Homo sapiens: one gene and its partner. The protein of the gene in region 2 purifies or fractionates together with the protein of the main gene of each other region. This does not show direct contact. Each region holds a gene or a part of one and is shown on either strand. Other genes may lie near its edges.

Region 1 (7,691 bases), on a different chromosome or scaffold from region 2:
TAAGTGGTACTTTTCCATCCAGCTTCTGCCAGTTTCCTTAAGCTTGTTGACACCAAGCTGGTTTAAGACACTGGGTGGCATTTCTGTTAGCTGCTTTGTCTCAGCATGTCTGGTAATGGTCAAAGTGTTCGCTGCTAGAGATGTCTGAACACTGGGATTGTTAATGAAGATCACCATTCCTTGGTTTGCAGACATACCTCTTTAGTATCAGAGATATTGCCTATTTCTACTTTCTTTCAGGAAAACTGAAGATTTTTTTTATCATCTGTTTTAACAGATAATGTTTGCTGTATCATCTGAGGGCAGTTCCTTTTTACCAGTGCACAATTGTGCTTGAAATCTGGCAAGTTTTTCATGGTTTGTGAGGGCTTTTTCATTTTATAATGAAAACGAAAGTGGAATTTCGTGAGTGGAAATTAAACTTCGTGGGGTATTGGGGTTGGCACTAGAGGTCTCAGGCAGACCAGCTGCAAGGCCAGTTTCTGACTTTAAAGGGAAAGCTTCTAACATTAGTTAATTCAGAATAATGTTTGTTCTATTTTTTTTTTTTGTAATAAAATTAAGGCTTTTCCCTTCTGTTCCTAATTTACTAATCATTTTTTAAAAATCATTGAATTTTATCAAATTCTCCATTGAGGTTATTCTCTTTTCATCTGGTAATGTGCTTAGTTACATACATATGGATTTTCTAATATGAAACTCTCCTAGCATACCTGGGATAATAAATCTAACTTGGATATGTTGTATCATCTTTGTTATATACACAATCAAATCTGATTTGCTAATATTTTGTTGAGAATTTTTAATGTATATCCTTGAATGAAACAGTCCTGTAATATATTTTCTTATATTGTTTCTAGTTGTCCAGGTCATGTTGGTTCCAAAGAATAAGAGAGAATTCCTATCAGTTGGCCTTAATAAACAAATGGAATTACGAATAGCCCCCGGAAATCTAAGCTATAAGAAAGTTGAAGAACTTCAGAATTGGCTACTTCTAACTCACTCTGGCCCTCAAAATTTAAAACATAGATACTTATGTCCCATAGCAGATTCTGGACTTTTACCAAGCACCTGAAACGATTCTGATAAAGATCATCTACTGACTATGCTTTTGAAAAACATTACCGTGGTAGGGAAGAGTTCTTGGCTTTCATTTGCTCTTGCAGCAATCCAGAGCTGAGACTAGCTCCACAGCACTACATGGTGGAGATTTTAGTGAAAGAGTTGAAGACGCAAAATGCCCTTGCTTCCCTATAGCATCTCAGTAGGATGCCCATGGTTTGCAGATGCCCTGGTTTATGCCTATTATTCCAGCATATGAGTAATGTTCCCCTTTTCATTTAAAAAAAAAAAAGTCTCAATTTGGATGTTCTTTTGGAAGCCTTCATGTTATAGTTTCTTTACTTCTTTATGGGAGGACACGCCTCAGGCTACCTCGGACTTATAAGACTCCTCCTCTCCTACTTGAATTCATTTCCCCAGCTCTAAATGCTAAGTGAAAAGCAGAGTTTGAGAGGGTATGGAATGTGGAAAACTTATGTTTAAACAAGGCTAAATGTCCTTGCATTTCATGGTATTCAGTTAGTTCACCAGATGCAAAATCTATGTAGGAATTTGGGCCAAAGCCCTAGTTATTAATATTATAAAATTTTATTTTGCCTGTAAAAGTCTCTTATAGCCATGGTGAGCTAGAAGAATTCTGGAGTTTAGACCACAGAAGGAAAATAAGATCTTCCTACTACAACTAACACATAATAATAAATAAAATACGTAAATCCTAGATTTTACTCTTCCAGCGTACGCAGGTCCAAGATAAGGCCTCAGGCTGTCACAAATTGAAAGTTGCCAACTGAGGAATAAAGGTAGCCTGAGAGGTACTAGTGATATGAAATGTCTAAGTACTAATATCATTTATTTTTCACAATTCTTTTCCTTGAGGACCACAAAACTACCTTCATTTCAACCAAAGTTAATTACAAGCCTATCTATTTTCATAAGTTCAATTTACATGCTAATATTAATGACTAAATAATCTATCCTTACCTTTGAAAGAACAGTTTAAAATAGACATTCAATGAAATGTTATTTCAAATAACTGTATGGAAATGTAAGAACTAGACTTTTAAACTCTCATTTTAACAATATGAAATAAGATACACTGGCAGTATCTTATGTAAGAAAACTTATAATTTCATTCATACATCAAACAATAAATTTCTGGAATAAACCTAAGCATTAGAGGCATCTACTTCTACATTACTTAGGCTTGAAAACCCTCTCTTTGGTTCCAACACTCCTATCATAATTTTCAATTCTTCCTCCGCAATTTCTTTTTCTTTCTTTACGGTTCCATTTCACCACTACTGCGTCATCACCACAGCAAGTGCAGCCACTTCTTGAGCACTCATTATGTGCCAGGTGTTGCTGTGAGAGCATTACATGAATTAACTCGTTTAATCCTCATAACAATCTTTTGAGAAAACAAATTTTATCCCTAACTATATAGATGAGAAAAATGAAGCACAGAGAAGGTAAGCTGATAACTGGCAGCACTGGTATTTGAACCTAAGTGGTCATCTTAACCATTCATTAGAGCTGTTGTTCACAAATCACCTCACACCTTCAAAAATCTGCCACCTGGTTACATAATCTCATCTCTCTTCTTTTTGAATTCACTTAACATACCGAGTCTAGACAATCTCTATAACTAAAACATTTTCCCGTTCAATTACCTAGTTTACCTAAAATTAGTTTTAAAATACAGATCAAATGTGTGCAAACCAGGGGTCCAAGATTTTCTTTATACCCATCCTCTTTTCTGGCCTCATCAGTCATTTCACCCATGACACAAACACTAAGCTGGAGGTGATCTGGACTGCATTTTTATCCTCTCCCAGGGCCTAATACAATGCCTGAACATAACAGCTGTCAGAAATGTTTACTAGATTAGTAATTCAAAGACTTTATGGTTCTTCTGATACCTAGCTGTAGGTTACTATTATGCCAGGGTTCCTGGTGTTAATGAAGAAATCTACTATTTCCTTTACAATAGTAAAATAGCATTGTTTAAAAATTCAAAAATTCACCCATGACAAAATAAGCCATTTCAGAACACTCAAATCAATTTTTTCTCTTTTCTTTAGCAAAATAGTAGCAACTGATAGTTATTTCCAACACTGTGATTAAAAACATGAAAGTATTTTTAATACTACCAAAAATTTTATTACTAACCTGTTGAGGAGTAATGGTATCTCTATAACTTGGTAAGATTTTTAGGGTGACACTTCCACTAATATTTTTCAGTAATTCTTGTAATTCCTTTGGATTATTTCCAACCTCATGGCCATTGACTTCTTTAATTATATCTCCCACATGAAGTAGACCTTGTCGATCTATCATTCCCCCATGGAGGATTCGGGCAATTACCAGATCATTATTTTCAACCCTAAATGTCACACCCTATGAAAAATAAGAAACAGATTTCTCATTAATTATTAGGGAGAAATGCTTAAATATTCATGAGCATATGTAAGAAAATAATTCTAAAACTAGGTAAAATGAATCATTCTTACTTTTCCCATGTTCTCTCCTGTCTCAATATTTCACTCCCATTAAACTGTGTACTAGTATAGTTTATTACACTAGTGGATAGGATGTATCTTACAGGCTAAATGGAAACTCGAGAGAGCAGGAAAAGGTATTTGTGCATTCTGATGGACTTATTCCTGGCTTTTCCTTTTTTGCACTCACTGTTCTTATAGTCAGGATCCAGAAGTAATAATTTTACCAAGGAATAGTAAACTTCACTACTTAGAGAGTCCTAGTATGGCTTCAATTTTTAATAACAACTTCTTTTTATATTTTGATACTGTCAGTATTTCTTCAAAGGGTAGTTCATGTCTTCAAAGGGTAGGAAGAAACATAATAGTCATCTTCTGAAATTTTTTGCTACCCCTTGCCATATTTCTACTTCTAGCTCAGTTTAACTTTTCATTTTAGTTAAATTTTGCAGGCTAAACCAAGTTGAGAAAGCATCAGCTGTGTCTTTATACACAGGCCAAACAAGAATACAGTTTTCATAACATTATGAAAAGGAAAAAAAATGAAACAGAGTAGTGACTGAACCACAAATTATGTCATATTTCAGATTTAATAGGGTACTGATTTATCTGTACTCACCAGTGGTTCCCCAGCTCTTTTGTGAATACCAAGAATACGAATGGCATCTACTGGTAATAACTGATTATTGATAGAAGAATTATTCATTTCTGGGCTTGATGGAGGTGAATCATAACACTTTGATGCCACAATATCATGGGCCTCCAACAGTGACTATAAGGAGTCAAAATAGCCTGTGGTTATTTATGATATGTGGATGAAATTTGTTACTAAAAGTACTTTGTTATTTCATTATTCCAATGGAGTACTAAAAATTTCCAAGGCACATGGTATTAAATTCCCAAATATCAGGTTGATCAAATAAATATATAATTTTTAAGAGATATAAAAATATATAGTTTTATTATCATCAAACAATATTATATTCCTTCTTTGAGATATGAAGAGATATTAGTGATGCTTTTTAAAAACTGGCAAGTTCACTGGAAACTGAACCTAGGTTTCCAGTCTGGTGCAATGAAGGTACTGGGTTTTATTGCCACCACTGTCATCATATCATTCAATATTTACCATCAATCCTATTTACTAAAATACCATAAAAATTCAAATTCAAATGACATTTTTACCTAACATTGCTATGTTAGTAATATGATATACTTTTTATATGTAGAAAACGTCTGTTAAAAGATGTCCAACAGAAAATGGATAAATATTAGCATCTTATATCAGTGACAAAAAATTTTATATTACCAATAAAGGTTTTAGTTTATAAAAGGAACATTTTTTGAGCAAAAAAACAAGTCAGTAATAGTCCCGAATATAACGTATTTTTTTTACCTCCTATACTTACTATGTATGTGCTACCAGCATGGGTGGTTTTGATCTAGCTTTCTAGGAATTGCTTTTTTTTTTTCTTTTTTGAGACAGAGTCTCACTCTGTCACCTAGGCTGGAGTGCAGTGGTGTGATCTCGGCTCACTGCAACCCCCACTTCCTGGGTTCAAGTGATTCTCCTGCCTCAGCCTCCCAAGTAGCTGGGACTACAGGCGCATGCCACCATGCCCAGCTAATTTTTTGTATTTTTAGTAGAGACGGGGTTTCACCGTGTTAGCTAGGATGGTCTCGATCTCCTGACCTCATGATCCGCCCACCTCGGCCTCCCAAGGAATTTCTTAATTAATACTAAAATGTTAAATTTTTTTTCATTTCTTATCCTAAAAGAATAATTTTTAGGGCAGGCGCGGTGGCTCATGCCTGTAATACCAGCAGTTTGGGAGGCCGAGGCAGGTGGATCATGTGAGGTCAGGAGTTCAAGACTAGCCTGGCCAACATGGCAACACTCTGTCTCTACTAAAAACACAAAAAATTAGCTGGGCGTGGTGGTGTGTGCCTGTAATCCCAGCTACTCGGGAGGCTGAGGCAGGAGAACTGCTTGAACCCGGGAGGCAGAGGTTGCAGTGAGCCGAGATTGCACCATTGTACTCCAGCCTGGGCAACAAGAGTGAAACTCTGTCTCAAAAAAAAAAAAAAAAAAAAGAATAATTTTTACTGCAACTGTGCATATTCAACATAAAGATAAGTTAACATTCTTGAGGGGCTGGATAGAATTCAAGTTCAAAAACAATAAATCAAAATAGAAAGAAGCAAATATTAACAGGTTCGGGAAAAAAGCAATCAGGATAATTGGTAATTTCTGGTCATTTCATAAAACAATTTGTGAAACACTGGAGAAAAAAATTCAATAAAACAACTCATAAATCCATATGTAAGGATTCTTCCTATAAATGCTGGAAGTTGCTAACCTGCGCTGCTTAGTTTTCCACCCTATATCCTCCTTTGGCAGTTTCATTTACTCCTGTGACTTGAGCCACTACTTATGCATTGACAACTCTTAAATTTCTATCTCTAGTTCAGAAATCTCATGTGCTTCAGATTTTTATAGTAAAAATTTGCCCACAACTCGTCAAAGTCACGGCAATTTGAAAATCAAAAGTAGGGATTGTAAAAGATTAAAACACTGAATAAAAAATCCATAGATCCACAATGCTATTTAAAAAAAGACTGAAAAAACTCATTTGTTACCACTTGAAACTGCAATTTTAAACAGCTCTTCACTTTGAAACTTAGTAAAAGGAAGGATCAAGTACATTCCTGCCTCTTCAGTAGAAATGCACTAAGCAGCCCAGTTGATGAGAAGCTCTACATTATGGAAGAATACTAGCTAATAATGTAGAACAGAAAAACGTCATTTTGCAACCTCTAATGAAAATTCTGATTTACAACCCAAAAGCTAGAATAAGATGAGAAATAACAAAAATTAGAGCTGAGCTGAAGAAAACTGAGACACAAAAAACCTTCCAAAAGATCAATGAGGCTGGGCATGATATGATGGCTCACGCCTGTAATCCCAGCACTTTGGGAGGCCGAGGTGGGCAGATCACCTGAGGTCAGGAGTTCAAGACCAGCCTGGCCAACATAGTGAAACACTGTCTCTACTAAAAATACAAAAATTAGCTGGGTGTCACGGCACGTGACTGCCTAGTCCCAGCTACTTGGGAGGCTGAGGCAGGAGAATTGCTTGAACCTGGGAGGTGGAGGCTGCAGAGAACCGAGATCGTGCCACTGCACTCCAGCCTGGACAACACAGTGACTCCATCTCAAAAAAAAAAAAAAATTAATTAAATTAAATTAAAACAACAACAACAACAACAAAAAATCAGAATCCAGGAGTTGGGTTTTTGAAAAAATTAATAGACAAGCCACTAGCTAGACTAATAAAGAAGAAAAGAGAGGAGAGCCAAATAAACACAATTAGAAATGATGAAGGGAATGTTACTACTGAACCCACAGAAATAAAAACAACCATGAGAAACTACTATGAACACTTCCATGCACACAAACCAGAAAACCTAGAAGAGAGATAAATTCCTAGACATATACAACCTCCGAAGACTGAGCCAGGAATAAATTGATTCCCTGCATAGACCAATAACAACCTCCGAAATTGAATCAGTAATAAATAGTTTATCAACCAAAAAAAGCCTGGGACCTGATGGATTCACAGCTGAATGCTATCAGATGTACAAATAAGAGATGGTACCATTCCTACAGAAAAGCTATTCCAAAAAACTGAGGAGGAACTCCTCCCCAACTAATTCTATGAGGGCAGCCTCATCTTTATATCAAAACCTGGCAGAAACACAACAGAAAAAGAAAACTTTAGGCCAATATCCTTGACAAACATTAATGTCAAAATCCTCAACAAAATACTTGCAAACCAAATCAATCGGCACATCAAAAAGCTAATCCACCATGATCAAGTAGGCTTCATCCCCAGAATGCAAGGTCTGTTCAACATTTGCAAATCAATAAATGTGATTCATCACATAAACAGAACTAAAGACAAAAACTACATAATTACCTCAATAGAGCAGAAAAGGCTTCCAATAAAATTCAACAACCCTTCATGTTAAAAATTATCAATTAACTAGGTATTAAAGGAACATACCTCAAAATAATAAGAGCCATCTATGACAAACCCACAGCCAACATTATACTGAATGGGCAAAAGCT
Region 2 (7,907 bases):
CCCAGAGGAGAGAAGAGAGGATGGTACTCCTACCCAAGCCAGAGCACTGCAGAACACCAGCATCTCTGAGTCTGCCAGGAGAAGAGGGGGTCCCAGAGCTTCCTTCAGCTCATTACAAAATTCCAAATCTGCCTCATACAGAAAAAGCCTCTCCAACCAGCAACCAAATTCTCAGAGAGCAGGGAACACAGAGGAGGGCAGTCACCACACTAGGCTGTGGTGAGGGACATGAGGGGCAGGGCCTCAATTTACAGCCAGAGCCCCAAATGCTCTACTTTCTCCAAATCCTTCCAAGCCCGATGCAGTGGGTGGGGAAGAGGACAGAAGGGTCAGCCACAGGGACTGGCTTCAGGGCCATGAGAATACAGGAGTTCCAGCACCTTCCAGGCTTTTCACAAAGCTTCTATGGCCGGGGCTGGGAAAGGGAAGGAACCTGGAGACTGACTGTGGAGTCAGCCCTCCCAGTACCAGGGCTAGGGGAAGTGGGGGGGCACTCCTCACTGTCTGCATCTTCCTGCCAGCTGCACTGCATGGCATACTCCTGCTCCAGGGTCAGCGGCTCCGAGGCTGTCAAACGCTGCAGCTCCTCTGATTTCATCCACTCGTGGTACCTGCTGGGACAGAGGGGTGGCTTTAGACATGGAGGACTCATTCAGAGGCATACGTCTGACACCTTATGAGGGTCCAGAACCAGACAGGGCTAACATAGGGCTCAAAGAAGACCCAAAGGGTTATGATTGCTCCTAAGGCAGGGGCCACAGACACAAGACCCAGAAGCAAGCTAGTCTTACACAAGAACAGCAGGACGAGTCAGTTCTATCTGTCCAATTTCCTATCCTGTCTCGGGTCAGTGCGGAGGAGCAGTCTGAAACCAAACATTCTTCAAATTCCAGAAGGGGATGTATATGGCAAGCCAACCTCAACAAAGGCGGCTGGACAGATCCCACGAAGTTAGGGCACCAGGAACCCTCAAACGGAAAACTACAAGTAGAGAATACCCATCTACAGCACCACTATCCCAATCTACCAGACATGTGCCAACTGCCCCCACAGGAATCCCATCATGACTCAGTCCTGGCCTTTTGAATGGTAGATATCACAACTCATCAGCTCAGAGTTCAAGGACAAGCTAACATTAAGTCTCCAAGAACTGAACATACTCACTGGCACCAGGGAAACATCACTAATTTACAATTAGGTGAGAAGACAATTTCTTTTTCTTCCACGTTTAGTTTACATAAAGCAATTCCTTGCTGAAAGGCCAAAAAGCTGAGAGAATGAAAGGGAAGAGGATGGGCAGCTCCTCCCAAGGAAGTCACAGTCCCCAGGTTCTGCTATTTTTTTTTTTTTTTTTTTTGAGACAGAGTTTTACTCTTGTTGCCCAGGCTGGAATTACAGGCATGTGCCACCATGCCCAGCTATTTTTTTTGTATTTTTATTAGAGACGGGGTTTCTCCACGTTGATCAGGCTGGTCTCTTTTTTTTTTTTTTTTTGAGACGGAGTCTCGATCTGTCACCCAGGCTGGAGTGCAGTGGCGCGATCTCGGCTCACTGTAAGCTCCGCCTCCCGGGTTCACACATTCTCCTGCCTCAGCCTCCCGAGTAGCTGGGACTACAGGCGCCCGCCACCACATCCGGCTAATTTTTTTGTATTTTTAGTAGAGACGGGGTTTCACCATGTTAGCCAGGATGGTCTCGCTCTCCTGAGCTTGTGATCCGCCTGCCTCGGTCTCCCAAAGTGCTGGGATTACAGGCGTGAGCCACTGCGCCCAGCCTTTATTTTATTTTATTTTATTTTTGAGACAAAGTCTCACTCTGTTGCCCAGGCTGGAGTACAGTGGTGTGATCTCGGCTCACCACAACCTCCACCTCCCTGGTTCAAGTGATTCTCCTGCCTCAGCCTCCCAAGTAGCTGGAATTACAGGTGCCGGGCAACAAGCCCAGCTAATTTTTTGTGTTTTTAGTAGAGATGGCGTTTTATCATGTTGGCCAGGCTGGTCTTGAACTACTGACCTCATGATCCACCCGCCTCAGCCTCCCAAAGTGCTGGGATTACAGGCGTGAGCCACCGCACCCGGCCGTTTTTTTGTTTTTGTTTGTTTTTGTTTTTTTGTTTTTTTTGTTTTTTTTTGAGACAGGTTCTTGCTCTGTCACCCAGGCTGGAGTACAGTGGTACAATCACAGCTCACAGCAGTCTTCATCTCCTGGGCTCAGGCAATCCTCCCACCTCAGCCTCCCTAGTAGCTGGGACTGCAGCTGTGCACCACCATGCCTGGCTAATTTTTGTATTTTTTTGTAGAGACAAGGTCTCGCTACGTTACCCAAGCTGGTCTCGAACTGCTGGGCTCAAGCAATCCTCCTGCCACAGCCTCCCAAAGTCCTGGAATTACAGGCGTGAGCCACGGCACCCAGCCTTTTTTCCCCCCTCATATATAATTATTTCTCACAACCAATGTTTCTTCTTAGGGGAAATAGCCCTGAGACTGGGGCTGTACCTTACACAGCTCTGGGTGCTGATACGCACCCCATGTCAAGCGGGAAAGATACCTGGGCACATGCTCCGAGGTGTAGGGTACAAGGACCACCTTCTTCCCCAGCAGCAAGGTGTTCTGATTCAACCTCATGGTAGCAGCCTGCATGCAGATGGGGAGAGCAAAGACTTCAGGACCCTGAATTTCCTCCAACTTTGGGTAGGCGCTCCAGCTTTCCTGCTGGGGCTAAGTTGACTTCCGTCATTAGTTCCGTCTAGACACTTCAAAGAATACAGACTCCAAAATTCTTGCAAGAAAGAGAACCAGGCTGGTTAAGGATAATTAAACAATCCTTGACTCCCACTCCAAGAGGCCAAGCCTGGGCTCCGTTTCTGCCGGTTCCTTCCGTCCACTCCCCAGAACTTCGATTCCTCAAACCCAAGCACCAAGTACCAAGTACCAAAGTATCCCCAGAGCTCCCATTACTTGCCCCAGTCCAGGGATTCCAACCCAGAATCAACTTTCAGCCCTGCCTTAAACCTACTTCCAACCTCTTACCCCGGCGACCACCCCACGGGGCTCTAGCCACTCCCTCCCCGCCCCCGACCACTTCAGGGCAAGGCGGGCTTAGTCTTAGGCCCTCCCCTTTGAGTGGCGTTCTAGACCACTCTCTTCGACCCTCCAACCACGCGGACCCGGGTACTGCCAAGCTCACACCCACCTACCACCGACGAAATCGTCCCCCGCAGAAAGGGTGATCTACCTCCTCCAACCAGCCACGTTCCCAGGCCCGGCCGGCTACCGCCCCTTCCGCATGCGCGTGAGAACGCGCCCCGCCCACTTCCGCCATGCTGACGGCAGCCGCCAGGCCCCAATCCCGGTCCCGCCCCCGCGAGGCGCCCAATCAGCGCGCGCGAAAAAGGTGGGCTGTGGGGCCGGCGCATGCGCGCTGCGGAAGCTGGTGCTGGACAGCTGGCGCCGGCAGCAGCGGACCGGCGGGAGACGGCGGCTTGGGAGCTGGCTGTGCTGCAGGTGTTGGGTCGGGTCGGGTCGGGACGGGCGGGAGAGGACGAGACGGGTCGGGATAGGTTGGGGCGGGGCGGGGCGGCACTAGACTCGGGACTCCTCCAGGAGGGAGAGAGAGGGAGAGGCTGGGAGTGGGGTTCTTGAGAAAAGAGGGAGCTTTGAGGGTGGGGAACCCTAAGAGAGTAGGTGGGGCCAGGGAGTGGAGGCCCCATTAAAAAAAGGAGGCCTTAGTGCCAAGAGTGGAGTTGGAAGGGCAATGTAGGAAAGCCCCCAGCTCCCTGCCCTAGGCAGAGGCGGCAGACAGTTCCTTGGGCTCCCATGTGTGGTAGTGAGCTCCTGGTTCCTGGAACTAAACGAGGATAACCACCCCAGAGCGTGGAAAGGGGGCTCTTGTGGTGGGTGAGACTTAGTGGTTTTAGAGGCCCCTTAAATCACTTGCACCCCGAGCAGCATTGAAAACATCCGTGCTGGGCACAGAGCAGTGCCCTGCACAGCAAGGGAAATGTTAGAAGAAACCGTCCAGATTTCTGTCATCCAGGGTGACCCCTCCCTCGGGGGTGAGTCTTGTGACAGATACTGAGGCCCTAAGTGTCTGTGATAAAAGAACCAGAGGTGGCAGGGGAAGTCTGCAAGCCTCCTCCCACCCCTGTCTCAGTCCATCAGATAGGTGAAGCCTGCTCTTTTGTTTTAAGGAGCTGCGGCAGCCGCCGTCCTTGCACCTAAGGAACCTCTGCTGCCAGCCCTTCCTCACTTTTGGAAATGGCGGGTGAAATTACAGAGACCGGGGAACTCTACTCTTCCTACGTGAGTGTGACTTATAGAACCTTTTGCTCACTTAAGTGTTCCTGGCTTCTAGAAAAGCACATTGCTTGCTGGAGATGGGACTAGTGAGTGCTGCTGCTTGAGCAGACCATAGTGGAAGCAGGATGGGGGAGTTCCATGGGGCAGCGACTACAGTGCTGCTGTGGTGGCTCAGAATGTAAGTCAGATTTATTCTCTTTTTAAGGTGTTTGTCAGAGTGGTCAAGCCAAACAAAATCGCCATGCTGTTTATAATGTTAATCCCGGGCTGGGCACGGTGGCTCACGCCTGTAATCCCAGCACTTTGGGAGGCTGAAGCGGGCAGATCACCTGAGGTCAGGAGTTCAAGACCAGCCTGGCCAACATGGTAAAACCCTGTCTCTACTAAAAATACAAAATTAGCCGGGCATGGTGGCACTGTAATCCCAGCTACTCGGGAGGCTGAGGCAGGAGAATCGCTTGAACCCGGGAGGCGGACGTTGCAGTGAGCTGAGATCGAGCCGTTGCACTCCAGCCTGGGCAAAAAGAGCGAAACTCTGTCTCAAAAATAAAGAAATAATGTTCATCTCCAGGCTACCACACTTGCCTGCAGTGCTGCCCTTCAGATGAACAGTGATTGACAGCTGTTGACTCTGGGTTTTGCTCATCTCAGCAGTTGGAAACCGCTTTGGTCTTTACTGAATTTTAAATTGCACAACTTTTATAGTCTTGGATGGCGTAAGAAGCAGCGAAAGCATACAGAGACTTCTAATTACAGTTTGGTGGACTCTGCAATTAGAACAATTAGAATGATTGATTCTCACTGTCTTAGGTCTGTGTTACCTCTGGCTGCCCCCAACACACACGCAGTTTATCTTCTCTATGTAACGTATGATTGGTCATAGTTGTTACATCACAGGGCCCTCTTGCCTGGATAAGTAGCCAGAGGGTTGGAATAATCAGATGGTTGACTCAGGTTGCTACCAACCCTCCCAGGCAAAAGCAGCACTGCCCTAAGTAGCAAGAGTTTTCTAGAACTTGACCTGCCTTCAACAGCTGCCCTGCCTTGTACATAGCTTCCTAGCCTGGGGATCTCTGGTCTGTTTCTGCTAGCTTCACAGACTAGCATTGTGGTGTGATGGACAAGGAAGTGTCTCCAAGACATTTCCTTCACAGCTGGAAGAAAGCCTTCCTGATTCCAGAGTCTTCCTATTGGGCCTGTGCCATTCATGTGTGGCAATAAAGGAGCCTTCTTCACCCATCACCTGTGTAATTTCTCAGGGGAAGTCTTTTTTTTTTTTTTTTTTTTTTTTTTGAGACAGAGTTCCACTCTTGTTGCCCAGGCTGGAGTGCAATGGTGCAATCTCGGCTCACTGCAACCTCTGCCTCCCAGGTTCAACCTCTGCCTCCCAGGTTCAAGCAATTCTCCTGCCCCACCCTCCCAAGTAGCTGGGACTACAGGCATGCACCACCCTGCCCAGCTAATTTTTTGTATTTAGTAGAGACAGGGTTTCACCATGTTGGTCATGCTGGTCTTGAACTCCTGACCTCAGGTGATCCACCCGCCTCAGCCTCCCAAAGTGCTGGGATTACAGCCGTGAGCCACTGCACCCAGCCTCTCAGGTGAAGTCTTTCATGAACCCTGGAATGGAATAAATAGTGTCCCTCTCATTTGTGGAATTATGTAACAGCTCCTAGCCTCCTGCTGTCAGTGATGAAATCTCTATGCTGTCTATTAATGTAAAAGTCACCACGGCTCCTGCTTTTTCTTACAACATCTGTAAATTTAGAGATAAGGAGATGAGTCATCCCTGTAACTAAGTTTTGTAAGGAAAACACTTGGATATGTCCCCATTTCTTGTATCTCCGGTTGTTTAAGGGGTCCTCTCACATGTCAGCATGTGCCCACAGGAAATGAGGCAGTTAGGCCTGCAAGCTTCAGTGCGCTCTGCCCGTTTTTGTTCTCCATCTCCTCTGTGTTTTATTTCGTTCAGGGTCTTTGTTGCCCAGAGGGCCAGCTCTGGGCATTGGCCATAAACAAGTGCTTGTGTTGTTTTATCCTACTGGTGAAGAGAGATGTAGGGAGGAGATGGGGTGGGATGGGGAGGGGATGATGTGACATCAAACAGGAGGTGTAGTGGTCAGTGTTCTGAGGGGAGAAGACACCTTCTTCCTAAGGGTTCCTTAACTCCCCCGTCCTGGAACAATTCTTGGTCCTCTGTAAGACCAGAAGAGTTGGTTGTCACTGAACCCAGATAAGCTGTGGAACTAACTCACTGCTGATGCTGGCTGCTCTGAGTTCCCCTGCAGGCCCCAGCTCAAGACAACGTGGGCAGAGCTCTGCCCTGGCTGCCTTGGGAAACCAAGACACGGGGCAGGTCATTCATACGTGTGCTTCAGCCCACGCGCATTTACAAGACAAAGCCTCTCCTTAGCTCTCTATTGCCCCATTCATTTTGAGTTCTTTTCCCCTTCAGGAGTTCCAAGGATGTTCGCTTTAGCTTGAATTATTCTGCCTAAAATATTTGTAACAAGCAGACGAACCTCCTAGGTGGCTCAGATGTCACACCCTCTCAAGGGTAGTGCTGAACACGGGAACGTGGTTCAGAGAGGTACATGTCCCCTTAAGGGATCTCAGGATAGGCATGTCTGTTTCCCCATTTATGAGGACCGAGAGTGACACAGAACTGAAGTGGTTGTTGTGTGATCAAAATACAGGATGCTGTAGGTCACGCCCGACAGAAGGGTCGGCCGCTGAGGGTGCCTCTGCCTGCTGGTTCCTGCTGAAGATTGTTGCGGTTGCTTTCGAAGGAGAGAGGCTTGTTTCACACCCTGAAATCCTAGTCATTGCTTCCGCATCTTTGCTGCCTTCTGTTTCCTTTGACAATTGTCAGAGGGGAAGCTGTTGAAAGATACTGGTGACATCTGCCCCATGCAGGTCATGAGTGAGGCTGCTGGGTGGAGACGAGGCATGTGGGATGCTGCACTGAGCTCTCTAGGGCATAGGAGAGCAGGCCAGCCGTCCCAGGGAGCAGTGCCTGTGCCTCCTCCAGTGCAGCCACAGAGGAAGAGGTGAGAATTGGAGATAACTCAGTTTAGAATGCATGCATTGGTCTTCATTATCAAGACTGCAGTAGAGCCTATTCCTCAGCTTTCTGCCACTGCTTCCCAGGAGTCTGGCCCACAGAACTGTCCCACGACCAGCAGAAGAGAACGTCTCCTTTCTCTTCCTTCCCCACAACCCCTCCTGACCCAACCTGTGGCTCAGCCCAGATTTGCTTCCTGCCTCTATGTCTGTTCATTGTGATTGGCCATCACTGATTACCTTTACAGAAGGTGAAGAGGACTGAATGCTCGCCAGGAGTGCCACAGTCCTGAGAAGGCAGAGAAGTCCTACGTTACCCTGCAGGATTCCCTGAGCCCCCACTAAACACACAGGGCTTGCTTTGGAACTGAAAAAATTGCAACAAAGCAAGACAACTGCAATTACCCATTTCTGCTCCCAACTGCCAATAGTTTCTCTCTTCATTCATTTCTTTGTAAAGTTCTTAAAGGTTCCTAAGTTTCTTTTGGGAGCATGCTTATTTCATTATACCTCTCTCTACAGCAGTGGTTGTCAACTAGCGGTGAT

Evidence for each region.
Region 1: the proteins of NAT9 (region 2) and PALS2 purify together in Homo sapiens (affinity purification with mass spectrometry; 2 studies listed by BioGRID and IntAct, with this or other methods). This does not show direct contact.

Annotation. Positions count from the first base shown.
Region 1 is NC_000007.14:24,646,253-24,653,943, reverse strand, and holds part of PALS2 (protein PALS2), read right to left. Parts: intron 4,333-7,691; coding exon 4,180-4,332; intron 3,460-4,179; coding exon 3,232-3,459; intron 1-3,231.
Region 2 is NC_000017.11:74,773,075-74,780,981, forward strand, and holds the start of NAT9 (alpha/beta-tubulin-N-acetyltransferase 9), read right to left. Parts: upstream 3,272-7,907; 5' UTR 3,193-3,271; intron 2,779-3,192; exon of another isoform or gene 2,640-2,778; coding exon of another isoform or gene 2,625-2,639; coding exon 2,548-2,624; exon of another isoform or gene 2,530-2,547; coding exon of another isoform or gene 2,525-2,529; intron 1,330-2,524; exon of another isoform or gene 792-1,329; intron 615-791; coding exon 502-614; intron 1-501. Other genes in the region: SLC38A12 (transmembrane protein 104), read left to right, coding at 4,257-4,301. UniProt on the Homo sapiens protein: N-acetyltransferase that mediates the acetylation of the N-terminal residues of alpha- and beta-tubulin.